4 separate regions of the Homo sapiens genome follow, and all the other regions are linked to region 2. Evidence: fine-mapped expression QTL. A gene starts in region 2. Each other region holds a variant in brackets. All regions are shown on one strand. Distances are from middle to middle.

Evidence for each region. PIP is the estimated chance that this variant, and not a neighbour inherited with it, causes the effect.
Region 1: its variant is fine-mapped to the expression of NTM in tibial nerve (GTEx, PIP above 0.99).
Region 3: its variant is fine-mapped to the expression of NTM in lung (TOPMed, PIP above 0.99).
Region 4: its variant is fine-mapped to the expression of NTM in testis (GTEx, PIP 0.94).

What each region holds. Positions count from the first base shown.
Region 1 is chr11:132,096,143-132,104,248 of GRCh38, forward strand. The region is part of intron 2 of NTM (neurotrimin); the gene reads left to right. Among named protein-coding and RNA genes, the nearest start is that of NTM-IT, 180 kb to the right of the region's middle. The variant C/T (reference allele first, on the strand shown) is at 4,277.
Region 2 is chr11:131,366,865-131,374,970 of GRCh38, forward strand. NTM (neurotrimin) reads left to right here and starts at 3,751. Exons shown (of 9, transcript NM_001352005.2): 1 at 3,751-4,024. The coding sequence starts at 3,943. RefSeq lists an enhancer at 7,214-7,876.
Region 3 is chr11:131,325,512-131,333,617 of GRCh38, forward strand. No RefSeq gene overlaps it. Among named protein-coding and RNA genes, the nearest start is that of NTM, 41 kb to the right of the region's middle. The variant C/T (reference allele first, on the strand shown) is at 3,339.
Region 4 is chr11:132,311,315-132,319,420 of GRCh38, forward strand. It overlaps NTM (neurotrimin), which reads left to right. Exons shown (of 9, transcript NM_001352005.2): 7 at 3,238-3,389. Among named protein-coding and RNA genes, the nearest start is that of NTM-IT, 31 kb to the left of the region's middle. RefSeq lists an enhancer at 6,885-8,084. The variant T/C (reference allele first, on the strand shown) is at 3,131.

The DNA of each region.
Region 1 (8,106 bases), 730 kb after region 2:
CTCTCCCCATACTTTTTAGTCTTTTTTCCCCCCTTGAATGATTTTCTTCTTTATCTTTCTGACCAGCGACCTTTGATTGCAAGGAGCAACTCAGTTTCACATTACTAGAGTAACAGAGTGTGTTGTAATTGGCCGGGCATTGGTCTTGAAATGTCAGGGAAAGATTTATTTCCTAGTGCAACCTCTCTGGGTGCTAATTTTGCTATAGGCTGCAGGATAATGGTTCCCGCTCACAATGGGCGAGAGTTCCTAATCAGAATACAGGGCTGTAATTGGGTTGAAGGGATTTTAAATCATTAAAGTTGCATTTAGAATGGGGAATAGAAATAGAACCCCAAGATTGAATGACTCACTTAGTATTTAATGAGGGAGCCATGGAGTATTACTTATAATATTCGCCTAATGATCTTACAAGCAATGTAACTCCCCCCGCCCTCTAGGGCCTATTCACAAGGCACAATTCTGCAGTCTCAGACCCACCACTCTGGAGCAATTAATTACTGACCCATCAAGGAGCAATCAGGCTCCGCTCGGCCAGCAGAAGCGCTGATTTCTTCCCCCAGTGTCTCCTCACTCTTCATCTTCCTGCCTGCCTTGGTCTAGGGCCTGCGGGGAGGGGAGTCGACATTTACAAGCCATAAATCATCATGCAGTTTTTGGAAAACCCAGCTCACTATGAGAGGAACAGGGTGACCAAGGGTACCTGTGGAGAGTCTGAGAGGAGAAGGCATCAGAAGGAGGCTATGCTGGCCCTGGGAGTGTACAGTCTACAGGTTTCAGAGGATGTTCTCTGGTGCTGCAGACACTAAGTGTCTAGCACATAGTAGGCACTAAATAAATTGCAGCTTCCCATGATATGACTATGACCAAGGGTTACTAACCCAGCTGAATAGATTTGTTTCAGGTGGCGTGAAGCTCCAGCAGTTATTTTGGACTTAATCTCTAGGTAGATCTGTAAGACCAATGTTCCTGTAAATGGAATTCCTGAGAATTTAGGTTACAGAGAGGCTGCTTAAGACATATGTACCCCTTCCTTCTGCAGGTTCAGAAACAGCTCAGCTCTCTAGAGAGAGCACGCAAGTGTTGTGTGTGTGGTGGTCGTGTCATTGCTAATGGTCCTTCCTAAAGGGAACACACATTTGGGAGTGTGATTGACCTGGTCGAGTGGCACTGGAACCACAGCAGGTCACTGATCCTGAGTTAGCCTCACTTGGCTGTTGGTGCCACGTCGGCCAGGATGCTGGGGACACTCAGTCTGTGTTGCACTGGAGGCCAGGATGCTCCTGGGTGCTGATGGCTCACTGTTCTAAATCTCATCAGGGAATGTCACTTGTCCGTCCTGTGTCAGGCCTCAGAAAGACGACTTCCATCTCTTCTAGTATTTCAAGTAAAACAAAGTCTATGGGTTTCTTTGGTGATACCTCAGTTGTAACTTCTATTGTGTTGACATAACAACTGAGATATCATAATGAGTAAATAACACTGATATGACCTCCTAGGTCAGGCTGGCCTGGGAAAAAGCTTTCTATTTGAGAATGTCTTGAACATAGAGCCTGGAAGGTAGTAGAGACTTCGTGAACACTCGTGAACTTCTGATGAAAGGGCTTCTCCTCAAATACTTGGATCTGATAGCTTCATGCAGGTCATTGTGATGAGGACCTTTTCCATAAAGGAGCCAGAGGGAAAAGGGTTCCGGCATTGGTTGAGTTCCTCCCACTTGGGCAGATGGTAGGCTGCTCATCACACTAAAGTGGACTCATCCGTGATGCCCGTTTTGCAATTGAGGCAAACTTTACCCTTGGGAATAAACTAAAATATTCTACCAGTTCTGCTTTTGCCCAATTAAGGCAAAGAAAGATTCGTGGCAAGTATTTTGCTGTAACAGGTATTGTTATGAATATCCATTGATCCTGCTAGAAATAAATCTGTCATGATGTGGAAAGTTAAAACAGCTAGGATATTCTTTAATTATGAGGTGTTGACTGATTTAAATTTAGTAACTGTTAAAATATCAGTAGTTATATCATTAGTTTACCAAAAATTAAAAGTGATAATGCCTGCTTCATACAAATCAGAGCCAAACAGTGTAACTTTGTGCATGAAAGAACATGCTGTGCTTGATGTAATTAGTATATTCCCCCAAAATTGTGACTCATGATAAATCTAATAATATCTTAAATGCAAAAAAGGTAGTCCAATATTTTAAAGAATCCCATAGAGAATCTTTTGTGTGAAGAGCCTTTGGCGTTGCGGCCATCTCCATTAATTCATCTATTCTGAAACTTCTGGGGTCTGTGCTTTTCCTATAAAGAAGGCCACCTCTGTGCATGCTTCATGGGTGGCAGCTGTCTCCTACCCACGTGCTTGAATGACGAGACTAATGCTCTAGACCACGCACCTCAGTTGCCTGCAGATAGTGTCCCTGTCCCGATCTAATGCCAATGTCTTAGCTTTGCCTTTTCAGTCTTCTATTTCAACTCCAGGCAAGTCTGGCTACTAGCCCATAAAGTGCCTTTTAAGAAGTGGGAAACTTGCCCCCGTAGGCAAATATAGCCCCACAAGTACAAGGCGTGGTGAACTTGTAGCATCTCTATGTGAATTCCGTCAGGAGATGTAGCCCCAACCTGGGGTTGATAGCTTAACAAGCAAATAGTACCTGGACTTCAGCCTCACATGCTTCCTTGGCCAGGCACCCTTGTGCAGTGAACAACCTGCACAACCTGTATACAGCAGCCCTGCAGCTTGGACTGTTTTGATCACAACCAGAGCAATGTCCAAATAATCTGCCAAATATTTGTGCAAACATTATGTTCATGTTTAATCGGGAGCGATAGTTTTGTCTTCTTTATAAAAGGAGCAAATCCCCAGAAGCTGGTCAGGAGCACCAGCTGTTTACTGCCTGCAGAAGCCGCTGCTTATCTCCTTGTAACCACCTGCCTCTTAGAGATCATGTCTTAATTAACTCAGTGTTATCAAAACTGAAATTGTAGCAACACCTGTAACATCAAATTGTAAATGAGAGATAAAGGGGGAAAAACTCTGCTGACCAAGAAAGGGAGCTTGGAAACTCTCTCTTGAGCTGTAGGTAGTTGGCTCCAGGTTGATTGGTGGCAGTCTGCTGAGAATTAGAATCAGAGACTCATACATTATTCCATTTGGAAAGTGTCTTGGAGGTCTTCTAATCCAGTGGTGGTCAAATATTTTTTATCTCATGACACACAACTTATTCTTCTGATGTTCAATATATGCTGATATTTTCTATTTTATCTTATTTATTTCATTTTAAAAACTCACGGATAAAAATCATTCCATTGATTTCATGACCCACTACAGATTCACAACACAAAAAAACTGGAAAACAGTGATGTAGTCTAATTTCTAAAATCTAAAGGACTGAGGGACAAAGAGGTGAAGTGACTTGCCCCGGGTAGGTTATCAGTGGGTATTGTTCTTAAACCCAGGTCTATAGACTCCCTCCCAGTGGTTCTGTTCCCTGAAATCTACTAAATTCTGCCACTGCAGGACAGCTCCGAGAAGAAAAGCAAGTCTTAACTTAAGAAACAGGTCTTCTTGGGACCCTGCTACTTTCCGGATAACAAGCCTGAGTACCTACATAATACAAAATGTACCCTTTGAGGAGAAGGTCAGGTGCTTTCTCACATAAAAAGCATTGTAACAACTGGTGGTTTGAACGCCTCACTGCATTCCCATGCTGAAACAGTAGGGGCGCCATGCCTCCTAGTCTTGGTGAGCCTCCTTAAAACCTTAACACCCTGTGCTCTACCCCATCCTTTTCTTCCTCTTTCATTTCCTTCCCCCACTTTGCACCATTGAGATCCCTTTCTACTCACCACCCCCTAAACTTCTCCTTTGAGACACTGGACTAAAATCGTGAACAAAATAGGCATTCTCACAGAAACAGTAATTCCAAATTAAAACAAAAACAAAAGCAGTAACTTATTACACTATGAGAGACCTTTTTACATTTCTCTGCCTATATTTGCATGTTTTTAACATATTGAAAGAAGTTTTCCAAATGAAAGCTGTCTGATTGGTAACCACACCCATGTGTCCCATGGCAGTCACTCGTGGGAGCAATCTTGGGATCTAAACAGAGTTTGTTTAGTATCTTTGTGTGGTATTGATCAGCATCATTGATAAAGTATGCACTGGATGTTGTTTTCCCAGATCAGGGATTGATTTGGAAGATGGTTAGCCAGCACCACTATGATCTGACTGTGGGCAGGCGGATCATCACACTGGGGGGACACATAGG[C/T]CCAAAGAGGATCCAGCAGATTGAATTTGCATTATGCAAGCCCCCTTTGAGTTTCACCCACTAGCACATGCTTCTGTGACAGTTGAATTACCAGCTATAGAACTGGGGTGGCAGGAAGCAGGCCATCTCCATTAGCTTCTTTTGAATCCATTTCTTCATTTCCTTTGGCCCTGGGCATGTGGGCACAAACTTACTCGAATGGCCATATTCACAGAAGCACAACTTTCTACAGCAAGGTATTATCAGCTGTTGCTGTCTTCGGAAAGGCTTTATTGTCTCCTAGCTAAGGGAATCCCTCCTTTCCTTCCAGGGTTCACTACCAGCGCCCCACCCCCACGCATACATATACAGACACTGAGCTGTGTTTTGATATGTGAGGTGGGCTATCAGCTGTGATTTAATGACGAGTATCACTGTCAGACTTTACAAAATGGAATTTCATCAGATGGTGAGGGAAGACTTCTGCATAGAAACTACAGAGGGAAATTTGACAGCTTTTTCCATTCAGTTATCAAAGCATTTGCAGTTCAAAGCAGGTGAAACAATAATGTAATCTTAGCACTGAATGCTCATTTGTATCTGAGTGTTTCAATAAATAAAATGGTCAGGGAAATGAAAGCAGACCTGTTGTCTCCAATCCACTAAATTTAATATCCAGGGTATTGACTGACAGCTTTTTATCACCATAATTAGTATGGATTGTTCCTGAGGCCATTGATCAATCTTTCCTACCTCTATGGACTTGAGTGGCTGTTTTCTTCCTCTCCTGCCCTCCCCACCCTTTATTTTAATATTGATCGTGCCAGTTGTGTTCCACCGCAGAGAGGCTGCTCACTTAGGCAAAAGAAAACTCAGGATGAAGAGAGATGGCTGAGCAGCAGCCATTTCTAGGTGGCATCCACCTGTGACATCACTCTACCTCATCTATGTTGACCTTGTAACTTGACCTCTTGGTACCAGTGACCTTCAGCTCCTCAATACGATAACCAGGCACACCGTCTTCCCCACTGGGTGGAAGTTACACAAAGACTAGCTACAGAAGCCGTGGTCAGGAAATATCTGTTGAATTCATGAATACCCCTTCTGTAATGTTGTCAAGCTAAATAAGGGAGTTTGGATAGACCAAGGAACACAACCTTGTGTGTGTGTGTGTGTGTGTGTGTGTGTATGTTTGAATGTATGTGAATATCTATGATGTAACCTGTTCCATATAATGCAGGCCAGAAACCTAAGACCTTCTTATTTCTCACCGAGCTCTTCCAATTTGATGTTGTCCTCTTCTCAGTCTGTCTATCACTAGGCGTATACGGTGTGTAGGTATACACCTCACTATCTCTTGCCTTAACTGTTGCCATAATTCACTATCTCATTTCCCTGCCTCCTGTCCTGCCTCACCTAACTCCAACCTTGCATCTTCAAATCTTCCACACAGAGGACAGGCAGGTTTTTGTAAAATATAAACTATTATAGTCCTTGACTGTTTCACATCTAAGATCCTTGTCATGGCACAAAAAGCTTTCTGTAACCTGATCTCTCCTCCCTACTTCTCAGCCCCATTTCCCACCATTCCTACAGGTCACACTGCTGGAAGGTAGAATTGCAATGGATCCGTTCAGTCATTGCCTGCTTCACGCCTCTAAGTCTTGGCTTATGTTCTGTATTTTGCCTGCAGTAGCCTTCACATTCTTTTTCTCCTTGGCCACTCTTTCTCATTCTTCAGGAATTCATTCAGATGGTATCCCTTTCAGGAAACATTACTTTAGCTCCCAAAGTATCCGAACTATGACTTTTTCTGTCTTCTGAGATTTTAATAGAATATATACATATACTTTTTTATGCATCTCTATCCTATACTAGAGAATAAACCTGAAGGGGACAGGGGCTACGTGGTTTTTCGTTCTGTCTCCAATGCAAGGCACAACTCCTGGCTCCTAGGATGTGTTTCTTGCACTGGAAAGAAGTATTCCTAAGAAGAGAGTCAGTGTGCCTGAAGAGCTGGGGCATACATTATGTCAAACTGGATCTGTCTTGGGACACACAACGTGCTGTGCCATATAACTGCACCACGAACAAAAGCGAGGTGGATCTCACTTATTCTCAGGGTGGTGAGAAGAGATGGGAAAATATCCCTTCTTCTTATAAGCAGGTAGCAAGGTATCTTTCTGACCTTAAAGAATTCAGGTGTTGTCAACTGGTTATTTTCCACAGTGTGGAAGAGTTTTGCTATCTATACACTGGAGTAGTTTTCTCATTGGTCTTCCTAATGGAATTTCCCTCTGCCCCACTTTGTAGTACAGATCACCCATTTGCATAACTTTTCGGAAGGATGCTTCCTGAGGGGAGAGATGCCATGCATTTCTGGGAGTGCCCCATGAGCCCACACTGACCTTAGACAGCCCCCTTGCTCCCAATCTGCAAGCTGTGTGGAGCCTGTCTTCCCTGTTCCTGGCACAGCAGCCTGCCCCAACAGTTACAGGTGCTCGCACACATCAAATGCCTCTTGTTGAGGCATTAAACCAAGTGCAACTTTTCCGAACTGAGCACAACAGAGCCAAATTGGACTGGAAAGGCCACAGGTTCCTCAGGGCCTCAGGGAGCCTGTGGCATCTACATTGCAAATTGGCCCCATAGAAAAGCAACTGATGCCAGGGCCGGCCTTCATTTCATCCCTACCATGCCTATTGTGGAACCGCAGGGGCAGATGTTTCTGGAGGTGACCGCCTGGGCGCACACAGGCGCAGGCAGCACCTCCTCCTCACCGGCCTCTCTCCAGGCTTATGTAAGACAGATTGGACAGACTGATACCAATTGGCACATCGTCCCTGCCAGATTGGAATCAGGCCCTTCTACCATCTTTGGGGTCCACGGTGGCTCCAAATAAAATGTACAGAAGGAATGTGATTCTTAGCTACAGCCAATTTTCCCTTTGCTATTGCGCTGGCATTTCTAATCTCGGGCATTTTGTTGCTGTGGAGCACACCACTACAAATACAGTCTCCAGCTTAGGAACGTTGAGATTTGCAATCATGTGAAAATGCCTTTTCGTATTCCTACAGTTTGTCTGGATAATTTATTTATTTTAATGTATTATTTAGTGCAAAACTATTAAGTGAGCTTCAGGTTATATTGTTACGTTGTTGCTAATTCAGTTACATATGGCTGGGGCAGGTGACAACAAGGAGGGAAGATACCTATGGCACCTGCTCTTTCCTTTCCTGAGATTTCTGCAGCTTCTGCATGTAGATACTTAACCCTAAAAGGGAAGGTAGTGTGCATATTTTGCCTCCTGGATTCGTGTCTCAACTGTACCACTGAGTGGCTGTGAATTTAGTCAAGACACTTAATTCTTCCGAGACTTAATTTCCTTACCTCTAAAGGTCTTCCCAGGCTGGAGGGTTAAATGACGTGGTGCAGATGAAAATGCAGAGCAAGGAGCCTGACACACAACAGAGGGTGGGCAAATGCCTGTCCTCTCCCTTGCTGTCCCTTCAAGTGGCCTTCATCAGCAGACCTAGGCATAGCACCTCTGAACTTCAAATAGTCTATTAGTAGCAGGACCACATTTGAAGTTATGCGTATGGTATACACCAACTTGTATGTGTGTTGTTTAGGAAGGTCATTCTACAGAGTATATCTGATGCAGACCGGGACTGTGTTTTTCGTTGTTGTTGTTCTATTCCCAGTTGTGCAAGGCACAACTCCTGGCACCTAGGATGTGTTTGTTGCACTAGAAAGAAGTAATCCTAAGAAGAGAATCTGTGTGCCTTAAGAGCTGGGGCATCTTTATGTCAAAGTGGATCTGTTATGGTGCATGCAACAGGCTGTGCCGC
Region 2 (8,106 bases):
TATAGCTCTCAAGATAGTTTAGCATTTAGCAGTGTTCAGAACCCAAATTAGACTTCTGGTTCGGCAATCCCTGAGGATATATTTTGCCTCAATGAATGCACAGAGCATAATGCTGAAACTGCTCTGTCCAGGAGTCTTAGTTCCCAAGCACAGATAGCTTCTACCAATGACACATGGTAGACCACATCCATCTCAACTTGGTTAAAAACAGTAAAATTAATGAAAATTAGTTGATGGTTAGGATGTCTGGCTATGGTTGGGATGGGGGTGTAATTGCTATCCTGTTTCAGATGTGGAGTTGAAATGACTCAACCTAATCTCACAGCCCCTAGGGGACAGAACTGGGATTTGGACCCCAAGCAAAGCAGCCCTAAGTCCGTGCTCTCATTCAACAAGTCATGTCAGTGACGCCCAGTGTCTGTGCCTGCCAGGTACCAGACATGGTTACCTCACCTGTGTGCAGAAAGTAACTGCCAAGCATCATATTATGCTAAGGTTCATTTAAAAAATATTTTCAAGCTCTTCTTGCTATACAGAATGGTAGGATGGGGAATCTCAGACAAGTCACTAGAACCTCAAATATACTTGGTGTATTTCTAACTCTAGTTTTTAATTCATGGTATTCTCATCCAGCAACGTCCTTCCCTCTGCCTCAGATCTAGGATCAGAGTCACTCTCACGGTATTCATGACTCCCACCGTCTCCAAAGAACTTTACAAAACTATCATAGAAAATGACCACCTATTGTGTGCTGTCTGATGAAATTAATTATATGTACCAACCATTGGAAACTCAGTTAAGATTGAAAGCAGTATATGAGTCTTCCTGTAGTTTTGTATCAACATATGTATTGTTTTGTAATGTTTATTAATAATCTCATATGCTATTGAAAGCAACAAAAAGATTCTACGCTAGGATGCTTGATATCTATTTGAGTCCCTCACAGTATTTAGCACAGGATATTATTATTGAAGTTGATCTAAGATGAAAATGCTCAGGTTTAAATCCTGATTCCATTCCTTAACTGTTGTGTGGCTGTGGACAAGCTTTTTCTGAGCCTCAATGCCCTCATTTATAAAATGGGGATGATAATATCACCACTTCATAGGTTGTGATTATTTAATGAGAAAAATGCATGCAAAACACTGAGTATCATGTCTAGCACATTGCAAATAAATATCAATAAATATCAACTCCGATGATTAATTTCTTATTATCTGTACACACCTGGGAGCTTAATAAACATTGGTAACTGTATAGATTTATTACAGTTCAGGGTAAGGACATTTACAAATGTTATTGTCCACCTCTCCTGATTGGGACTAAAGACTTACCAGTGGCCCATGATCTTTATCATCGTTCTGGAGAGAAATGAAATGGTGGTGAAAGGAAGCCACCTTCCTTCTGCACTGCACTGTTATCACCTGCCGTCACAGTTGTTCCAAAGCATTTAATTACACATGTCACTATGCTGAGCACCGCACAAAAAGACTCATCTACAGATAAAATTCTTGTCCATTGGGAGCTCACGATATCAAGGACATTTTGATAGATATGTGAATTAGAACTTAATGGCAAGAAGAAAAAAAATACCAGTTAACATAAAACATCTTTAAAATGAGAAGGAGTATAATAAATTATTCCAGTTCTACAATTTTATAGACAAGAAGCCAAGGTTCACAGAGGTGAAAGGACCTGCCTGAGGTCCCTTAGTTGTGCAGAACTATGAGAAGGATCTTGAGGTCCCCAGATCTTGAGGTCCCAGGGCCCCTTCCTCTCAAGGTCACAAGATCCCACATTCCAGGCAGTGTTGTCCCTATTCATACACAACACAAGGTAAACTTGTGGGAGGCCAAGGCTGGAAGGACTGCTTGAGGCAAGGAGTTTGAAACCAGCCTGAGCAACATAGTGAGACTTCATCTCTACTATGTTGTAGAAAATTAAAAAAAAAAAAAAAATAGCTGGGCATAGTGGGTAAGGCAGGAGGGTTCCTTGAGCCCAGGAGTTCAAAGTTGCGGTGAGCTGTGATTGCACCACTGCACTCCAACCTGGGTGACGGGGCAAGAGTCTGTCAAAAACAAAAACAAAAAAGAAAGAAAAAAGAAAAAAGCCAAGGTAAATCGTACGTCTTAGACATGTGCAAAATGGCAGTGATGTTTTCATTTCACCTCTGTACACTAAAATACAAACAGACAATGAGTACTTTTCTTCTATGCAGTTTGAAAATACATGAACATTTTTATGGGGTTACAAGGAAGTATAATAATTAGCGGTGGAGTTCTAGAAGAATATTTTTAAAATGTGTGTCAAGGCATAGTAGGGGTATGAATGTGTCAGAATTAGCTAAGGAAGGTTCTGTGAGAAACTACATTTTCTTTTTCTTTTCTTTTTTTTTTTTTTTTTTCTTGAGACAGGGGCTGGCTCTGTCACCCAGACTGGATTGTAGTGGCGCCATCTTGGCTTACTGTGATCTCCGCCTCCCAGGCTCAAGCAATTCTCCTGCCTCAGCCACCCAAGTGGCTGGAACCACGGGTGCGCACCACCAAACCCAGATATTTTTAAGGAATTTTTTAGTAGAGATAGGGTTTCACCATGTTGCCCAGGCTGGTCTCGAATTCCTGAGCTCAGGCTACTGGCCTTCCTTGGCCTCCCAAAGTTGTGGGATTACAGGCGTGAGCCACAGTGCCCAGCCAGGAGCTACATTTTCTAGATTTTTTGTTCACATCCTCTAACTTGCTTCTCATAAGGGGAAGCCAAAGATTAGAATAAACTTCCAGGCCCTAGAATTAGACCTCTTAAGAAATCATTTATGTCCATTAGATTATTTCTGTTCGGTTTTTATTCTTTCCTATCACCAAGGAGGTTAATGTCTTCAACTGTCTGAGGAACTACACAAAGTTTACACTCAGAAAGCCCCTCCGCATGTCTACCCTGAATCTTTCTCGCTGCAGTTTAAATCACAGATGCTTCTATGATTGCTTTAGTGGATGTGGATTGACCAAGTCATGGGGAATAAACTCCTGCTTTGTTTTCTTTTGAAGAAGGTTCTCCATCTTCAGACTATAGAGCTTCTTCTCAAATACCAGGTACTTTGTACCTTTCCATTGTATCATATACACATGGATGAATTTAGGAAATTGACTTCTAAAAAGTGAATGAAAAAGAGGAGTAACATAGATGTTCTGAAACAGAAGTGACAGGAGGAGAAAATAGAAAGTTATTTACTATTTTCAAAGCAACTAAGTAGAAAGGTTGATGAAAGAGAGAAAAAAAAGCTGTCACTGAATGATATTTCCATTGGAGGGGAAAATAGGTACCAACAAATGAAAATTGCCTCATCTTTACAAGTTTCACTGAGCATGAAAATGTCCCTTTAAAATTTCCCATAAGCCATGGCTGGCTATGGGATTTTTCCAGTGCAAAGGGAATCTGAGTTCAGGAGGCCAGGGAATGCCAGGGGGAAAGGGATTTTCTGATACTCAGAAGACTCAGAGACTGTCAGTTTAAAAAATGAAAGTAATATAGAAGGGGCAAAGTGGCATTTATCATTCTATCTCTCCAGGCTCCTGTCTCTTTAATCAGCTAGCCTGATTTGCCCAGTAAATGATTCCTGAGAGTGTGTGTGCGTGTGTGTGTGTGTGTGTGCCCGCGCGCGTGTGTTGTAGCTCTGTCAATCCTTGGATTAGAACCAATGATTGCAGCTTGTAGGAGGGCTGTCCAGGGCCAGATTGTACAATGTGTCTCAGTGCCAGAGTATGAGTGGAGATAATTACGGAGAAGTCATACTCTCTCACACCCTCGGCTTTCTTGTTGTGTCCTTCAGCAAAACAGTGGATTTAAATCTCCTTGCACAAGCTTGAGAGCAACACAATCTATCAGGAAAGAAAGAAAGAAAAAAACCGAACCTGACAAAAAAGAAGAAAAAGAAGAAGAAAAAAAATCATGAAAACCATCCAGCCAAAAATGCACAATTCTATCTCTTGGGCAATCTTCACGGGGCTGGCTGCTCTGTGTCTCTTCCAAGGTAAGAGCTTGCTATTGATTTGCCTTCGGTAGACCCAGGAATTGTACAGTGTGCTTTATAAGATTTGCAGACTCCCCGAGTCGGCTGTGCTGCGCTGTTTGCAGGTGGAGGAGAGAGCGTTTAGACAGCATGGCTGGGACTTCATTCTCCCGACTAGGCTGTGAGAATATTGATTTGATTCTGGCTGCTACCGGAATGGGGGAATATGTATGTGCATAAGTAAAATGTGTTTGGTGCTCCTGTTAGGACTGTGCTTGTGTGCAAGGCTCCCTGGCTTCATGCACATTCTTGCACACATACACAACGGAGCACACATGTAAGCAGGGGGAAATGACAGATTCGGAGGGCAACAGGGTTGCTAATGTGTTGCTTATGCGACTGGGAAGAAATTACAAGAGGAAACTTTAAATATCGGCCAGCGAACTTGCAAAGCTTTTAAAAGGAGCAAAGGGGAAAATGCAGGCTAGAAAGAATCAGGTGCTTCCTGTGAGGTTCTGGTCAGCGATCCAGCTGCAAGGGATGAGTCAATTTGCAGCAGTGGGGGACAACTGTATTAGTTTTAAATGTGTTCGGGGGTGTGTTTGTGGCTGGGGTCGGAGGTGTGGAAGCGAGGGGAGCCGGGGCTCTGAAATTCTAAAAAGCTTTTCGAAGTTGAAGGGAGAGAGGCAATAAGAGTCGAATGCTAATTTTCTGTTTATTTATCGGCTGAGCCGGGAGCCCTGGGGGCTGCAGTTGAGTGCAAGCTTTGATGTCCCCAGTGCTGTGTTCTGTGCATTTGGAATCGGCCTCCACCTTGAGTCCATTTGCTGCACCGTGCCTCCCCACACCCCATCCCGGCTCTCACGTCTGTTCGTTCCAGCAACAGAATTATCCACTAATCTTCTTGCTCCCACCTGCCCTGTCCTTTGGGGTAACTAGTTTGCCTCTTTTATATTAAACACAGCTAAAACTCGTAAGGATCGAGACAAGCTGAGAAACTTTCCCAGGGTGGCCCAGCAGGGCTCCGGGAGGAGGAGCCCTCTCTTGGGAGGTGAGGCTCAGTCCTATGCAGTTGTATTCCCAGAGGAAAGTTCCCTCTGACCCGGTGAAAAACGATGGGGAGTCCCACCCCCTCGCCCTCTTCTCCCCCTGCAATATGGAGTTCTCCTGATCTGGACTGAGTCCTGAGCTGTAGTCCTGCTGGCTCTTCTCCGAGGTTAGGATTTAGGGATTGCTGCTGTCCTCTTGACATAGGTTGCAGTGGCTGCAGTGTGGATCCACGTAAGGTGGGCAGAGAGACCAGGCTGGAAGGATCAAATGTGTACACCCTTGACTGGGGCTCGATGAAGAAGGCAAGGGGTGGGGACAGGAGGGATCTGTGTCGGGTGATAAGGAAGTCCAAGGTGGTGAATCTTGCAGGGATGTCCATGATGTCGTCTGCTGCACCCAACCCCAGGAGGCATGGGCCTCAGGATTCCCTGCTGTCCCCTAGGGGCTTTGGTGGGTGTTTGAGTGAAGGGAATCAACTTGGAGGCATCCTCGATTGACTCCTCTTATATAATATGAAGCAGTATCAGTGTGTGTGTGTGTGCGTGCGTGTGTGTGCACCCCTGCTTGTTCTGGGTGCACAAGAATGAAGTGGGGAAGCTGAGTTCAGGATCGGGCAGTTTCGGAAAAGCAGTTTCTGTGGGGGTTGACAGCAAAAATGAAAACTAAGCAGGCAAGGGGTAGGGTGAGGGGTCAGAGGTAGGGAGAGGGAAGGTCCCAAGCCCTCAGTCATTTCTATCTGTCCCGAGATCCATGTCTCTTCTGCCTGTAACATCAAACTGGAGACAATGACCAAACTTCCACCATCAACAGCCCTGCTGGCTGCATGCCAGGAGCCCCAGGGCCATACTGAATTTACATATAAATTAGCATACGTGATTTTTTTTTTCATCAGAATAAATGCAGGGAAGCATAATATTTGCTCATACTTTGAATCATCTCTGAATAGATGAGTAGCAAAGTGGTGGTGCCAATTTCTCTAAGGTGCCATCTGACTTTGTGGTCTTGTTCCTAACTTGGGGTAGGGGTGGTGGCGACAGCACTATCTCAGACCTTATCACATTCTACCGAATCCGGAATTTCTCAAAAAGAATGATGGCCTTATTTGTGCTACCCTCACCCAGTCAGCCCTGAACAGGCTTCAGTGGTCGTAATAGAACAAGGTTGCCCAATTTTAACGCAGAACGACCCCCAAAGACCCGCATATTGCATGCCAGTCAGATGTGGCAAAGGTGATGTCTGTTTTCTCTTTCAGAGGAAGGAAGCTGAAGTCTGCCAGCTATCTCTTATCAAACTTGCAGAATTACTGAGGCAGCCCAGGTCTTGCCTGCAATAATCCACCCCTATTGCATTGACCCAGTGGGACTAGTTAGAATGCAGCACACATTCCAAGGCGATTTTTTCTTCTCCTCTGTTTTTGTTTTAAGCTGGTTCTTCCTAGAGCTGCTGCTTCCTGTGCCTCCTGCCTCTTGAAAAGGTGTCTGGTGCTAATGGCAGGTTAGGAACCCCTCCCTGACCTGCTCCTCCCCACAACCCAACCAGCAACCAAGATCCAGCTTAGGTAGGGAGGGGGGTTTCTGAGGGAATCAGCACTGATTAGTGACGCTGACAGGAGGGGGGATTAGCTCCCTGGGGCTCTGGCCCTAAGATACACCAGGGTTGATTAAGTGGAGGCATCTCGTTGCCGGGAGCAGACGCTACAGAACTGGATCAGGCGCTGTCCCTTGCAGAACACCCACCGCCCACCTTCTGCCACTGAGAGCCTCTGAAAGGAATGGCTGCTTGTGCTGCAGCTTCCTCTTTCTAGAAAACCGACCATTTCTCCTTCGAAGGATTATTGTTTCTTTTAACACCTTCAGATTTGCTTGGCTAGGTTCCTCTCTTACCTTTCTCATTTCCTCACCTCTCCTCACATCCCGCATCCGCTTAGCAGCTAGCCTGAGACACAGACAGGGCAGAGGAGAAGGAAAAGGTGCCTCGGCAAAGTTCACACTCCCCTTCGCGCAGCACCCGGGAGGTGGGCGGTGGGCGCCGTTCGGCTGGGCAGGCCGGCCAGGTTCCTGCCATGCACAGTACACACGTGGTGCCAGCAGCAGCTTGAGCTGGGCAATGCTTCTGATATTCAGGGGTGGCAGACGAGACCATAGCAATATCTACTGGCAAAGTGGAAACATCAGCCTGGGATGATGGGACCCTGGGCCTGACATAGGCATTGTGGGCTCTTGGAAGCATGGCAGTAAGGGGAGGGCGTCAGGGAGCCTCATCGAATGGAACCTGCCTGCCAGGCTTGGGGCTGCCAACTTGAGGCAAGTTCCTGGCAAGGCGTGCACAGTGGCACAAATGTAGCTCACCTCCGCCCTTTGTATTAGGAGGCCACCCCACCAATGGGGATGGCCGTCTGAGCATTCGCTCAAGCGTGCCTGGAGAGTGTCTGCCCTGGCCGGCAGGTCTCGCTGCATGAAGACCATTCTTGAAACTGCAGCTTTAGTTACCAGGCACAGAGCCTGGTCCTGGTCCTGATTCTTCCCTTTTTTGGTTCCCTTAAAGCCAAATATAAGCCCCCAGATCTCGTCTTATCAGCTGCAATGTACAGTCCCTGACTTCTGTTCTTTCTCAGTAACCTCCTTCCATAGCGCTGGTTTTAATTCAGGCGTCCTGCGTAGTGTCTTCAGGTGTGTCTCTTGGTTCCCTGCCTGAGGTGATAGGGTCTAGATTGCCTCCTGGCAGTTCCCTGGGTTCTGCTCTCTGCCTGCGTACTGTCTGCCAGGCTGATAGTGGCTCCTTTTCTTGATGGGCCAAACAACCTGGTGTTGATTTTAGCCAAAACTTGTCCCTTGGGATGAAGTGAGCTCTCTCAACATCCCAAGAAATGGCAGAATTTCTGAATCAATATGGGGCACATGATTCTGACGTGTACAGAAAACACATGCTGGAGAGATTTGTAATGCTCTTGCCATTCAATCATAGTAGAGGCACACTTTGGGTAGGATGAACAGGTCTGTGATTTGGCTTTTTTCCTAGTATTTTGGATTCAAGCTCATGATCTGCTTCTGCTC
Region 3 (8,106 bases), 41 kb before region 2:
ACAATAAGTACATTTCATGCCTCATATTCACCTCCTATACCCTGCTCCATACAACTTTGCCCAGCGTATAGCACTCTTAATTCTTTCCAATCATTCCTATAGCCGACCATACTCTCTCTCTCTGTGTGTGTGTGTGTGTGTGTGTGTGTGTGTGTGCGCGCGCGCGCGCGTACATGCATGCAAGTATATGTGTGTGTAAGCACTGCTATGGTTAACGACACACTATTCCAAAACATAGCACCCTGGCATTTGAGAAAACAGCAGAAGCAGGAAGATTGCTTTCACTTCCCCCAAGTCATTTTCCCCTGAAGCAGGTCATGAGATCCCTCATTCCAGAGATGCCCTTCCTCTACCTGGAGGGAAGGAGCACCCTTATCTCTGAAGACACCTTAACACCGAGCAGAATCTGAACAAACAGGGCCTTGTTAACTCCATCCCCAGTTTATTGCCATTAGATCAAACCCTTATGTCCAATCACACTTCCCCGCGGCTGTCCACTCTTCATCAGACCTCAGCAGAAAAACGCACGCATTCTCTTGTTTTGGGAGGTGTTTATTTCTGAAGGCTCTCACGTTATATAAAATTTGTGTTAAATACATATGTGTGCTTTTCTCTTGTCAATCTGTTTTATAATATGTGGTAACATGAAAAAGTATTTGTTTTTCCTACAGTATACATGTATATTAATTGTATTGATATGTATAGATGTACATATATAGGTATATACATTTTCAGATCTTGGATAGCTGACACAGGAAAGTTAATATCACACTGAGAGTGTGTGCTGCAGAGTCTTCAGAGCTGGGTCAAACTTCAGCTCTGCCAGTTACTAACTTTTGATTTTAAATGAGGTATGTAACATGTATAAGCCTTCCTTCTTATCTGGAAAATGGGGATAATAATATATGCCTTTCAGAGTTTGAAGATAATCCATTAAGCGAAGGAAGATAGTGTCGGGCTGAATGTTACTGTTATCGTTAAAAGTATAATAAAATACCATTGGACCCTTAACAGAATAAGAGATACATGTAAAATTGGAAAGGAAAGAAATCTGTGGAGACAGAAATGTAAGTTGGTGTGTTGTGTGTTTGCTTCTGTGATAAAGCACTCAAGGGCCTCATTCGGCCCGGGAACCCTGGAGAGTTCTCTGGGGAAGGCACCTTCTTGGACTGTGCTGCTGAGAACATTTGGGATGGGATGGTCCAGCCAGCAGTGTCCTGGCATTCAGCCCTGTGTCCTTCCAGAAGCTGGTGGCAGGGCTAACTGTGACCATCTGCCAGGTACCCTCAGTCGAGCGTATGGGGTCAGCTGAGGTTCTAGAGGGGTCTGGTCTTGACAGACTCACGTTTCCTAGAGCCATGTTCCAATAGACATGGAGGGGCTGTCCTCATCTCTTGTTTAAAAACATTTTCTCTTTGCCCATCCTCTTGATGCCTCTCCTCACAGGAGGCAAGGATAGAAGGCGAGGCACAGGCCACACGGGGCTCAGAGAGCCTCTGCCCTGATGCAGAGCCTGGGTGGCCAGGAGGTGTGAAACATGCAGATCCACTGGCTCTTGCATTCCTCGGGCCTCTGGTGGAAAGCAAATAAAAGATTCTGCTCTCTGGGGCTCTTAAGCCATCCTCCCTGGAAGCCAGTTCTACTCAAAAATGTTTAATTAGCATGCTCCCACCTTCCTAAAAATAGGAAAGAAAAATCAATAAGCACTAAATGGCTACAATCCTTGGATCAAAGTGATTTTAAGTAAGGTTGTCTTCAGCTTTAGACCCTCTCTCGCACTCTCCATCTGCAAGCAGAAGACGCAAACTTGGTCCTCACACCTGCATGAGTGCTCATGGCAGCAATGGGTCCTGTTAACCTGCAGAGGTTACCAGCTGGATTTGTAAGTAAAAAGGGACATTTCAAAGTCTACTTCCAAACCCTTGTGCCTTCAACTCTGGTGCTGAGATGTTTGCTAAGCTCAGATATTTGAGATGAGGAGGGCGTGTGGATCCAATCAATGTAATTAATTCTGACAACCTAGGTCCTAGGGTCTTTGCACGGGCTGCCTCTGCCTGGGATGCTCTTGCCCTTGGATGCAGGGCTAGCTGTCTCACTTCCTTAGGTCCTGACTCATACACCACTTCCTCAGCGAGGCTTTTCCTGATCCGACATTCCAAAGTTTCCCCAGGTTGAAACATCTCATTCCCCTCTTCTGCTCCATTTGTATTCCTTACTGCTGACCACTTTCTAACAAGGTAGATATTTTACTGACTTGACTTGTTTATTGTCTGTCTCCCTCTCGAGGAGGTGAAGAAGAGATTTTTGTCTGTGTGGAGCTCTAATGTATTCCAAGCCCTTGGAATAGTGCCTGGCATTTAGAAGGAATTCAGTCAGTATTGATTGGAGGACATCCAGTAGTTAAGAACCGGCCTTTACGGGCATCTCGGAGGCTCAGATTCCAGGTCCACCTCTTAACAGCTCTTCACCTTGGGCAATCCTTTAACTTAGCCTCTCTGCATCTTGGTCTCTTCATCTGTAAAATGGGGATGATAGTATAGTACCTGCTTCACAGAGCTGTTACAAAGATTAAGTGTGTCGATATATAAAGTATTTAGAACAGAGCTCTGACGCATGATGTGTGCTTTAAAAGTGTTTTTATGACTGTCATTATTTAAAAAAGACATTCAGTAATTATTAAGTACTTACTATATTCTGGGAACCACATCATGAACATATAAAGCAGTTAGAATAGTATGTGGCACAAATTAAGTACATAATAAATATTAAGTACTATTTTATTTTATGTCTTTTGATACTCAAAACCACACAGATACTATTATTAATAGATACTATTATTATTATTATTATTACATTTGGTGAGGTTACTTCACTCCCTCAAATCCAGCCTGCTGGTAAGGCTTAGATCCACAGAGCCATCCCCAAGCACCCCACAGCCATGCCTTTGTTATGGGACTACCCACCTGCCTCTATCCTGTTTCCAAGGCACGGGTGCTGTTGCTTACATATAGGCTGGTCCTTTTTTGCCTAGTTGTTGGTTTTAATGGCTATGAGAGAACACTCTGAGGCTCCTTGGATCACCCTCCACCCCTAAAAGTTCAAATTCAATCCAAGCCTCTTCTCTCTCTTACAGGATGAGTTACATGCAATTTATCATATGGGTCCTGTTGCTTGAAATTGTTTAAATTGGCTCAATACAGACACTATAAATCCAGAGCACAAAGCTTCTGAACCGACCTGGTTTGGGAACTGAGGCTGTGGCTTTTCCCTGAGGGCTTGCAGTATATTTGCTGCCCTATATAACCAAAATTGTATCCTGTTCCTTCCTGCAGCACCTG[C/T]TACCTGGCAGAGCCACACTATCTTCCCTCACAGCCGAGGCTGATGGGGCTGGGAAAGAAGCCCCACAGAGCCATGGCTGGGGTTGTGGAACAGGCAGAGGCAAGTGCTCACACCTTCCTACTGTCTTAGGGTGGAGATGAGTTTTCAGAGCTGAGGGTGGGGAGGCAGGCAGTCAGCAGTGGGGGAGGCAGGCAGTCAGCAATGAGTGAGGCAGGCAGTTTTGAGTGGCAGCACTGCCTCTAGGGATGTTTCCAAGCATCACCCATGACTAGGTTTCAGTTTCTTTCGCATCATGGGCTGAAATCCCCTCTTGCCCCAGTAAGGGCAGGCCAGCATGGCCAAGAGGCCTTGCTGCCATTTAGGAAACAGTGTCCTGAATTTGTGGCTACGGGGTCCAGAGCTTATCCCAGGAGGAAATGTGCGACTGAGTTGCAGGAGAGCCTCTTGTGTGGAGGCAAGCTAGTGATTAAGATTTGAACTGCCCCTGCATCAAGTTCAACAAGAGAGGCACTGTCTAAGTGGGGCAACTGAAGAAGTCACCATAGGTAGGATCAGGGAAGGGGAGATACAGAGGAATGGCTGCATCCATGCAGCGCTGCAAGAAAAAGACAAATCCGTATGCTGATGGGGCTCTATCCGTGGGAAGAACAAGCAGAGGAGCACAGTCCACCAAAGCCACGGGTGCAGGATGAGAGGAAGGCAGAGTTGAAGGGAACATGACCTGTAAGAGAAAATGGAGCATTGGAGGGAAGGGGAAAGTGGCCCCACTAACTCACAGAGCTGAGCAATGTTGCAAAGAAAGCTTCCCTTGCGGGGAGGCCCAAGCGTTGGCTGCAGAAGTGGCCTTAGCTCTTGTCATCGCCACCCCTGTGTCAGAGGTGAGGCTGATAGCAGGCCAAGGAGTCAAGGAGGCACCGAAGCTAAGGGGAGGCAGATGGCACAGCCAGCTCTATGCGTCCTGGAAGGCCCTTCCCGCCCCCACATAAATTCCATAGCTTATTTGCTCTTTCTTCCTTTTATTTTTGTCTTAAATGTAAAATTTGGTGTCACTCTTCTGGGGTAAACAACAAACTGGTCTTTGGAAGGGATCCACTTGAATAGCAAATATTACAAAGCAAAAGTGACGAGTGTAAATGCGTCCTCTTATGAGGGCATCAGAACCTTGCTCAGCTGCCCCATTGGAGGACACATGGAAAGCTCAGCTTCCAGGGCAGGAAAGGCCAATGGTATCCCCTTCTCCTGGAGCTCAGTAGGCACAACCCGGGGGTCTAAGGGTATGGTAGCAGGCAGCGCCTCCTAATGGGTAACCCTGGACAAACGAGCCTAGGGAGGGAGAGGTGAGTGTTCTGGGCTAAGGAAGCGCCAGGCCAGAAAATAAACATGGCAGCCCCAAGTCAACTATGGAGCTCCGTGGTCTCCAGCTGTCTCATTCCTTTGCTGTTTCCCACCATGAATCAGGGGTCATTTCTCATGGGTCATTTCTCCCCCATTTCCTCTTTCCTCTCTGCACAAGATGGAATCTCAGAACTCCCAAGCATTTTAATTTTTTTTAATGAGGAAGCAGCGAGCTGACAAATTTCTTGGAGCACAATAATAAAATATCAGAGAAAAGTAGAACAGTCTCATATGATTTTTCTCAGTCCATTTTGCCTCCTAAATATTCATCCAAAATAGCGTATTAAACAGTAAAAAATAACAATGCTTTATTATGCAGTGCTCACACTCGAGTGTGCGTGGCACCGTTGTGACACCTGGACTCCTTGTCTGTCCGTTTGTTTTTCCTTCTGTTTCCTCTTCTCTCATTGGAGTGAGGAAAGAAGAGGGGAAAGGGGAGCACTTAGAAGAAGGGGCACAGAGGGGCAGAAGGACCAGGATGGGGCAAAAGGGAGAAGAGGAAGACAGAACACAGAGGGGAGAGGGGCAAGGGCGTTAGTGCTTAAACACCTGCCATAAATTAAAATCCTGAAATCACACTCCTGGTCAATAGTTTTTGAATTTTTTTTAATAGAGAGGAGAAATGTAAAAGTGGCTAGGAGTGGAGCTAAAGGCAAATTTGGTTTTTCTCATTAGACTAAGACTATTTTCTGTTTTTGGCAAATCAGATTCTGCTTTGAAAGTAAAGAGGTGGGTGGTGTAAGCTAAAAATAAAATCCTAAGCCCTTGCCATAGGCTGAGTGGACCCCTTCTTGGCAAATGGGGCCCCAGAAAAACCTTAAAAACTTAGCTCCCAGCCACAGCAAGATGGGAGGTCAAACACGTTGTGCTGCGTCCCCTCCCTTTTGCGTTTAGATACAACAACCAACCAGCATTTAGCAGAGACCATAAGACAGATGGAACGGACGCTTTGTGGCAACAAGATTTCAAATGATAAACAGGACCTAAGGCCGTGCCAGGCAGCAGTTAAATCATGCACCCCAGACTTAAAGCATAAGCTAGGTTCCAATTGCCACAAGGTTCTTTCTTTTTCTCTAGCAGCTAAACAAGCACTGGCCTTGAGATAAGCAAAATTAAAACATACACAACTCATCAGCTCGCAGAGGCTGACTAACAGACCCCTGTTTCACCAGCCATGACAACACCTTTGATTAGACAGGGACTGATTTCAGTAACTTTCTCCAGGTAAGAACACTGACCATGCAGTGGTTCCGGCTGATTTACAGAGACTGTGCACTTGCGTGCCTTCATGCCCTGAGACCTTTTGACAAATAAGACCTAATTGTAATACATTTAAATGCTCCGTCTCCACCCCAAAGTGAACATGGGTCATATGTTACATGCATGTTTGTTCAGTACGTGTGTGTCGGGATCACCTTCGTGAATATTCATAGCTCCTCCTGTCACCTGTTAAACAGGTATGTTTAGCCAACCCATTCAGCATAAAGCTGTTAGTCCAGCAAATCCTCCTGTGAAGTGCCTGCCTGGGTTTGGCCGAGGCAGGTCTCTCAGCCCAGGGGATGGCCCTCTTGCAGGCTGTAACCCTCTATAAGAAATAAAGTCTCTCCCTTTCCTTTTCTAAATTTATAAATTTGGATTTTTTTTAAAGTTACCAGTGGTGTGGGAGCTTTTATGTATTCTCTAAGCAGAGTAGGAAGAGAATCCCAGAATTAGAAAATATGGAATAATCAGATTCTGTTTAACGTCTTTCCTGGCATCCAGGGAGATTACACCTAAGCCACTTAAGCTGAAGTCTCAAGGGTTGCAGTTGGTCCCATTTCTATTAAAATCTTGCCTAACAGGAGAGCACAGTAACTTTTTTTTATTAAAGAGGAAAAGAAAAAAGCTGATGATGATGCTAGTCTAACTCTAAATGATACTAGTTCATCTAATCACTCAACGATGCAGTATGTTTACCATCTAATTTCATCCAAAACACCCTAAACTGAAAATAAAGTGCTGCTTAATAGACATGCAAAGATGTCATTTCATTTTGCTGAATGTTCTAGTAGCAACTACTAATTATTTCAATGTACTTTTTTTCTGTAATTATTTGGAACAAACTATTCAGCACTCCCCTATTAACTTCAGAAATATTTCAGTGTCCTACAGAAATTCAGTAGTATAAATTTAAATAGCTTTTTCCCTCCTTTCTTCAATGTGCTGGGAAGACAGCTGGATGAGGTTGAGGGAGGAAACACATCTTGTACAAACAGAAACAACCAAAGAAGAGTAAGAAAGAAAGAAATCCCACCCCTGAACTCTCTCCTTTTACATCTGGGCCCCTTTCTTCCCACATTCAATTTTCTTCAGGTTCCTGTGGGCAGGGTTATAGAGCTAATCCCCCAGATCTTCCTTTGGTTGCTGATGGACTGAGCAGCCAGCAGAGAAATGGCAGACACAGGGAGCAGGGCTGTCAAGGAAAGCAGTTGGGAGGAACTCTGTCGTCTTCCTGGAGTGTTTTTTAATCAGTCTCCTCCAGAGCCAACCCCTGATTCCTGTTGATATCATTTAGAATGAAGAAGATGGGGTCAGGCGTGGTGATGCATGCCTGTAATCCCAGCACTTTGGAAGGCCGAGGCAGGCAGATCACTTGAGGTCAGGAGTTCTAGACCAGTCTGGCCAACATGGTGAAACCCCATCTCTACTAAAAATACAAAAATTAGCTGGGTGTGGTGACACACCCCTGTAGTCCCAGCTACTAGGGAGGCTGAGGCAGGAGAATTGCCTGAACCCAGGGAGCAGAGGTTGCAGTGAGCCAAGATCGTGGCATTGCACTCCAGCCTGGGTGGCCAGAGAGAGGGACCACTCCTAGCCACCCGAGGAGCCGGATTGCTAGGCTTGGCTGATCCTGACAGGGGCTCCAATGTCCGTCTGAAAAGGAGGGCAATATCCCATCCATTCCTCTTCAGGGCACACTCTACCCTGAGGGCCACATCACAGCCACAACTTCAGCAGCACAGGGCTAAGAGGGGCTGAGCGTTGGCAGGTACTGAGTGGTGCACCAAGTGTCCTACCCAAGGAACAGCAAGGCTGAGAGGATCTCATCTAGCATCCTCATTTGACCAACCTGTGGCACAAACCTTATGAGCAGGAGATTTTCCCAGAGCAAGAGGAAGAAATGATAACAGCAGGTGAACTCACCACCAGCATTTGGGTTTCTGCTGCGAGTGTATTCACTGCTCCTGAGTCCACACATCTTCATTAAAACCTCGTCATGCATAGCGAGCACTGCTGAGAGAGCTTGTCATTTTACAATGCTCTTGTGCCTACATTCACCTATGTGAGAGTGACTACCAGGTGTGGGAGTAGGGAAGCCCAGCTCCCCCGTGG
Region 4 (8,106 bases), 940 kb after region 2:
ATCCTCCCAAATGAAAAGCAGTGTTTTGTTTTTTTAAAAAAAAATTTTTAAGGACACATTCTGGCAGCTTCTAGTGAGATGTATTATATTCATGTAGCCCATTTTACAGATGAAAGAACTAAGACACAAAGGGGAAAAACAAACTCATGAAGAAATAGAGCTGGCTTTCCCCTTCTTCCAAGAAAGAAGAATCAAGCAGACTGGAGCGTGTTTTTCTGATAAATATGGTTTCCTTACTTAGAAATTCTGTTTCACTTATGCGTTTCCTCTTCGACCTTCTTATTGTACTAAGAAGTAAACTGAGGCATAAAAATTAATTATTGAACCAAACCAAACAAAAAACCTATTGAGCTATGGGGTCAGTTCCCAAATCTTCAATTGTCTAGGTCTTAATGAAAAGTCATCAGCTGCGTCCTATTATTCCAATTCTTTATTGGAGAAAAATAGAAAAAATACATATAAGGGAAAGCAAAATCTTAGAGGAAAATAAAGCAAAAGTGGCCAATGGCGAGTAAAAGGATGAGAGAGCTCTCCTCTGTGCAGCATCTCTGGTCACAATAGGGACAGCTGTCCCTGCCACCATTCACCCAGGAGGAGAGAGCAGGCTGGCAGGGCCAGGGACAGTCTTCAGAGGCCCCTGGCTCAGGCAGCTTTGTTTCTGTCTTTCTTTCAGTTCTTCTGATGGCCTCTCCTTTTCTCCCCTTTCCATTTAGTGGTTTAGTCAGTTTTCCCTTCCCTGCACATGTATTTATTTATTTCCAGTGTGCTGGCATGAGACAGGGGCTGTCTTTCCTCCTGGCACCCAGCTCAGCTGCAGCATCCCTGCCTCTGAGGTCCTGGTCACAGCAAGTTGGGTCTGCCAGGTAGGTCTCCCAAGGCATATTGTGTCTGCCCTGGGGGGAAGGCCAGCTCTAGCCCATCTCCCATTTTCAGTGAGATGAGCAGACTACCAAGGCAGATTAAAGGAAACTGTGTGGTGAGGACAGGCAGTTTTCTCAAGAGTTAGTTAGGTGAGAAGTCTTTTGGCCACATGCCAGAATGACTCAACTGCACGCTATTGTATGTGTTATCCAACAAAGGAAGAGGAATGGAATGCTATACCTACGGAAGGCCACCCATCCAACAGGGGCATTGACCAATGAAAAGTCCACAGCTTTGGTAAGAAACTGAGGCCTGGAAGCAGTGCGGGATGGAGGGGATGTGTGCCCGCACAGAGAAGGGGAAAGCGTGTCCTCCCAGGAGCTGCAAAGCCTGCAAAGTGCTGCTGGCCCCCTGTGCTGTTTTTAGCTAAAGACATTTCAGAGCTGTCAAGCAGGAGCCTACTTTCAGTTAAGTCTCTCCCCACTGCAGAGCTGAAATCTCATTCACAGTTTGGTTATGATGGGAAAGCTTCCTCCCCATGGTGGACGAATGGTGTCAAAACGGCCAGTGGGATCAATCAGCCTGACTTGCTCGCAGAATCCTCCCGGTGAGTGGTATGGACAGCACCCCCTAGAGGATCAATGTATACATAGCAAGCTGGAAATGTAAAAGTGGCCTGTGGCTGCACAGCCGGATGCCTCATTCCATTTGGACAGTGCTAGCATTTTAATGAAGCCGTGGACTCAGGCCAGTTCATTGCCCCTAGCGTTTGGAGAGGAAGGCTCCCAGAGGAACATCTACATAATGAAAAGCAAGGCAAGTCTGTCCAACCTATCTTCTGACTTCCCTGGAGGCAGATGTTGGGTGAGAACTCCGGCCAGAACCTGCCTCTCTTTTCTGATCAAGGTTACTGTAAGTTGCAGGAGTGGAGAAATTATTCTGTAATCCCACAGAGACAGGTCTTCAGATAATGACAAAGCAGCTGCACTCTATGCCAAAAAACACTGTGACCCAGGGATGGGCAAGAGTCATCTATGTCTAACTCCATAGAAATACATTATACTGATGCCATTGTGCGGTCCGCAAAGCATTTCCTCATCATTGTCAAACAGCCTTGAGTACTGTTTGTTTTTCTCAATAGCATCCATTTGCCCCAAAGCATGTCCCCTGAATCTGTTCCAGTGTGCTCCCGCCATGTTATTATCTGCTTGCTACAAGCTGTGCTCCAGCCAGGCCCTAAACAGGAAACTTAGCTTTGTGTCCATATTCCCTGAGATCCTTCATCAAGAAGGGGTTTTTTGCCCCAAGAGTATTCATCTTTCCCATAGCATAGAATCAGCTTCAGGGCAAGGATTACAGATTGTTTGTTTCAGGGAAAAAGTAAAAGGTTGGCTTAAAGCTCATTCTAAGAAATGGACATTTCGGAATCTTGCAAAGGAAAGTAGGTGGTATCCATGATCGCCATAGGAATTGCTGTTAACAACTTCCTGAGAAGGAGGACATGTGCCTACTGACTCCAATAGCAGCTTTCTCCTTACCCTTTTATCTGCCTGGTAATAGAATCCATGGTTCTAATAAGCATACCTCACTTCCCCCAACTAACTAACTCCCTGTGGCATTTCTGTAGTGGCCCCCAGACCAATGCAAGTCCTTGTGGCTTACTGGGCTGCCATTGTGGAGCTCAGGGAGACTGTCCTGGCTCTAAAGGGACATATTCTTGGGAACCTCTAATCCTTCCAGACTAATCCTCTATAACAGTCTGGGCAGATCACTCCTCCCAAGCCCTTCAGAGTCCCCTGATGAGAAAAATGAGAAAATGATGATTTTTCTCCTCTTCATAGCCAAAAAATTAAGTATTATCTATACAATGCAATGCTTCTGGTGCTTCAGGAGAAATTAGATTACCAGGTGCTCGAAAAACATTTTTCTTTCAAATTCCTCAGGTGGCTCTTCTCTCAGAAGTTTGAGTTTTTCATTTGCATGGTTGTCATCATCACCATCACCATCATCATCATCAGGCCCACACATTTGAACCACCTACTGTGTGAATCGTATTGCTCTGAATGCCACACAGCTGGCAGGGGTTATTTGTTGTGGTGTTGCTGTCAGACTACAAAGCAAGGATGAGAGGCTAGGGAGATCAGATGTTCTGGTAGGAGTGCCCCTGGGCACATGTGTGAAAATCAAGAAACAACGTGTCACTCACTGTCTGTGAACTACTACTACATTATGGTGTGGTTGAGTGGATCAAATAATGGTTATAATGATG[T/C]CAGAAAGGGGGGCAAGGAGAAGACCAGGAATCCCTGGGCCTATCTTCTTCCTATGAGGACACATAACCATCTTGTTTTCTTCTTTTTTGTCTTTTGTTTCTCTCAGACTGATTGAAGGAAAGAAAGGGGTGAAAGTGGAAAACAGACCTTTCCTCTCAAAACTCATCTTCTTCAATGTCTCTGAACATGACTATGGGAACTACACTTGCGTGGCCTCCAACAAGCTGGGCCACACCAATGCCAGCATCATGCTATTTGGTGAGACTGTGCTCTGAGCTGGGCAAGAAGAGGGGAGAGGGTGCAGAACGGGAGAGCTGGGTGGGAGGGCCCCTCAAGGCCAGGGTCAGAGGTTAGCAGGGTATCAGTGGACATGGAGAGGGAGGAAAAAAAAGAGAGAGACACAGAAAGAAATGGAGAGAGAGGGACAGAGAGACAGGGAGGAGGCAGACAGAAAGAGAAAGAACAAGAGATACAGTTTACATGTATACAAAGTAGTATATGTATAGTACATGTATAAAAGTAGATCTCAGAAGTGGGAAAAGGAAAATGAAAAAGAATGTTCATGTTTCATTCTATAATGGAAAAGATCCCGAGATAGGAGAAAAATACTTTGGAATGCCAAAAATGACATTTGATTTTTTTTTTCTCAGTGATGATGGCTCCTAAGCTGACTGTGGGAATCATAATTGGGTAAAATAGTCAAGAACTCAGAGGGGAATGTTTGCTATTTCAGTCTTTGCTTACTGGCTTAGTGTAAAATTTTCCTTTTTCCAAAACTGTCTCCAGTCGCTGGGACATGAAGAGCCCCACCTTCGTCACATATCTGGCTACTGTATTGATATCAGAAGAAAGTGAGCGAGCTCCCTTGTAAACCCTGATGCCTGCCCCTGCTAGCAGACAGCTGTGCAGACATGAGCCTGCCTTCCTGGTGGTGCCACCAGGCAGGGCCCTGGGCCTCTCATGATGGCTCCATCCCTTGATGAACGCAGATTCTCCCTAAAGGCCACAGGATTAAATTCCGGTTGTGTTTTGGGCAAATTCCTTCATACCCCATCAAGTTCTTTGAGCTTGAGATTTTTCAAACCTGTCTCCCCAATCCCTCATGTTAACAAGCACTCTTGAATGTGATGGGGAAGTAAGGGGAGGCATTTGACAGATAATTTGCAAGAACACAAATTCCTTATATTCTGAAAACTTTGGGATAATCCCATGGCCCAGCCATGTGCCCTCGGTGCTAGCGTATGTGGCTTGCTCTGAATCACGAGCCTGCACTGCTTCACCACACGATCTCTGCTCACCCATTACATCCTCCTGCATTCTACCCGGCACAAATAGTAAATCCCAGCTTTATCTGAGAGAGCTGGGAAGGAGAAAGCCGCCCTTGATCCCCGAGCCAGTGGCTTGGAATGGGCAGAGCTGTGATTTGAGTGATTGATGTGTCTGGCATCTCTCACACAGGGATGATCATAAGAGCCCCTTGCATTTTTCATGCCTTTTTGCCTTTTTGGCAGGCGTCTGTCTGCATGAACAGAGACCAGGATTAGGAAGGAACAGACCCCTCCTTCCCTTGCTTTGCAAATCTAAATCTAAGGCTCCCCCTCAGTTTCCCATTAACCCAAGTCCTGCTCTCCACCCACAGCACTCCTCATCCTCACAGGGGTAGTCTTCCCCCCGCCACCCCCCACTTTGACCTACTCTCTCCTGACTTGGTTGCATGAAATGGTTCAGCCATTGGCTTTATCATGATTGTATACTTCCCCGGCTTCTTCTCCTTAAGCCATCTCAGGATGAGAATAGGGAGAAGCAGCAAACAAACAGTTCTCGTAAGAGTTGAATAGATGACATTTATGACAAGGAAAGCAGTGAAGTGCAGGTCATAAATATGCTCTTTTCAGCAGGCACACATGTAGCAATTACAATGTCTACTTCCCATGCCCCCCACCCTATGGGTCTATCAATCAGCATCTGCCCTGTGCCTCCTTTGGGACGTTTCTACCATTGCCAGCTCTCTGGCGTCCAGGGTTTTCTAAAAAGGACATGGAAAAGTAGTAGTATGTATTCAAATATGTTTAGAAAGAGTGGGTCACACCAAGATGAGTGGGGTACATGTGGGGATGTTCTTTAATGCCAGAAGTCCCGGAGCCTTAACATGCTAAATCTCTAGGGGAGAAAAAGTTTGCAGGATGTTTCAATCAGAAACCAATTTAATTTGTTAGCTTCAGTTGAGAGATCATTCCTGAGGAGTCCATCACTAGCAATGCTGCCTGGGTAACATAATTCTGTGGAGCTCGCAAACCCCATTCCTGTGTGAGATGAGTATTTGCAGCCAATAGTTCGGATGTTATTGTGGCTCCTAGGTTCATTATTGAGGCTCACCATCAATGAGGTCTTTTGACAAATATGAATTTGTTTGTTTGTTAGGGAATTTTCCATGTCAGTTTCCATTAAAAGCCAACAAGCACACTTGGGGCAGGTTGGAAAGCAGCATGTACTTTTTGCGAATATACAAACTTCTTGATGAAGTTAGAAAGGCAGCAAAATTATCATCATTTTGCCACCAACTTGTGCATAAACTGCACGCTCTCTCCAAGTGGCCTAGACGTTGAGAAGTGAGGAATTCTGGTGCAAGAGACCATAGTCGGCGGTCTGGGAATACTTAAGCCAAACGGGAGCAGGTTAGTCCTTCCCATCACAAGCACCTGATCGCTAAGGTGACAGGGCTTGCAGGGGCCTCTGAGAGTTCTGCTCCCGCACTCCTGAATCACAGTGCTCTGGGGAGCTCGTTCGTTCCTACCGTGGTGCCAGGGGCAAAAATTTCTGAATTTGGTGTCCTAAGATGAAACGATGGGGGTGGGGAAGTGGGAAACAAGTCTCATCTGGAAGGAAACTTTAGTCCTTTGTTATCCAGTTAGTAGCATGGCTCAGCATGAGCTAAGAGTGAATCCAACTGCACCAGAATATGTATGGCGTAACCAGCTCCCTGCCTTCCCAGTCACGGCATTCAATATGGAAACATAAAGCATGTCAGCGTTTCTCTTGCCGCACCTTGTCCTACGCCTTTGGTTTCTGTCTTCCTTTTTTTTATATAATCCCCCAGAAATGTCTGTGAAAGGCAGTATACAAACTATATATGACAAATATATAGCACTGTATATAATATATGTGTTTGTTCTCATTTTTCTCTCCTGTGTGTCCCTCAACCGATTTAGAACTAAATGAGCCTACGAGCTCAACTTTGTTGCAAGGTCAGTATCTTCCTTGCTTTATGTTTTGTCTCCCCTTCCCTCTATCCCAGAGGCCCCCTTCCCCTGCTGTGCATTACCCGAAGCACTTGTCTGTAAAGTGTCTTAGAGGATGTGGAAGGCTATTGAAGGAGGTGATTGATTGGGAGCCAGGGAGACTTCAAGCTCCCTTTGCTTTGCTCATCCCTTGCTCTCACTCCCCCAGGAGGGCTGGGAAGGGGAAAGAAAGAAAGAAAAGTATCGTTAAATTCTCAATGCCCAGGGATCAGCACAAAGGCAAAGGGTAGAGAGTGAGTCTGGGACCCATAGGAAGACTACTTCAACTGACTGAGCAGTTTTCATAAAAAGGGTCTTATTGATGACCCCTCAGCAGCAGAGTCAGACACCAAGCACATGATAATTCAGATATTCTGTCAAACGCATCAACTGGCTCATGAGGTTCTCCAAAGGAGGAGGATAGGCATGGCACTGCATGAGTGGTTGCCAATACACAGTGATTTCTAGGGGTGCTACTGGGGTCCAGGTTAGGGCCTGACGTCCAGTAGCTCTTTGGTCTTGGGTGACTCACTAAGCCTCATTTAGACTCAATTTCCTCTTCTTTACAATACAGTTGATCTACCTTATCCACCGTACAGAGTTGTTCCAACAGTCAATGGAGAATGCATGTTACAAAGGCTTTGAAAACTGTGAGGTGCATGTTGAATCTCCAGGCATAAACTGAAAGACAAGGATGCCCCTCAGTGGAACATCATAGGGGGTCCTTCACTCATTTCTCAGCCCCTTCTCCACAGTCCCTTTACATCCTCTTCCACTTCCAGTCCTCCCCTGCAAATATCTCCCGCGTCTCTTGCCTGTCTTTGCACATCCCTTCCAATTTTCTCACTAGCCTAGAGTGAGTGACTCATTAAGACTATGACTATGACTAAGCATCCAAGCAAGCAGTGGAATAAAATGGGTGCCGCGTGCACTGCTGTCACCCTGAGGACAGTGCTGACCACAGCAGTAGCCTTTCAGGAAGGCAGCTGTGAAGCCAGGGAGGGGAATGCTTCTCCCACCTTCCATCCCAATCCCCTGACCTCCTCTCCCCACCTCACCCCACCCTGTTCATCCCCTCACATTCTGGCCTTGCAAACTGTCATCAGAGGATGGCTGTAGACTTTGGAGGTGGAGGGGGAGATGAAAAGAAATGCATTACATGGGAAGGTGCATGACAGATGAAAAAAAGTACCTTTTTATCATGGAAAGAGTGAGGGCTGCATTACTCACTTTAGTGATGTACAGCACCACAGCGATGAGCCACAAGCAAGAAAATGAAACAAAGAAATAGAAAAAGTGAAGTCAATAGACTTATTCAGATTCAACCTATGATTCAACTTACGTTTATTGAACCTCCATGTGACTGTATTCACAGACGTAAAATAGAGAGCAGTAGAAAAGTGGCTAACAGCTGAGGAGCCAAGATGGCCGAATAGGAACAGCTCCAGTCTACAGCTCCCAGTGTGAGCGACGCAAAAGACAGGTGATTTCTGCATTTCCAACTGAGGTACCGGGTTCATCTCACTGGGGAGTGCCAGACAGTAGGTGCAGGACAGTGGGTGCAGCTCACCGTGTGCGAGCCGAAGCATGGCAAGGCATCGCCTTACCTGGGAAGCACAAGGGGTCAGGGAATTCCCTTTCCTAGTCAAAGAAAGCAGTGACCGTCGGCACCTGGAAAATCGAGTCACTCCCACCCT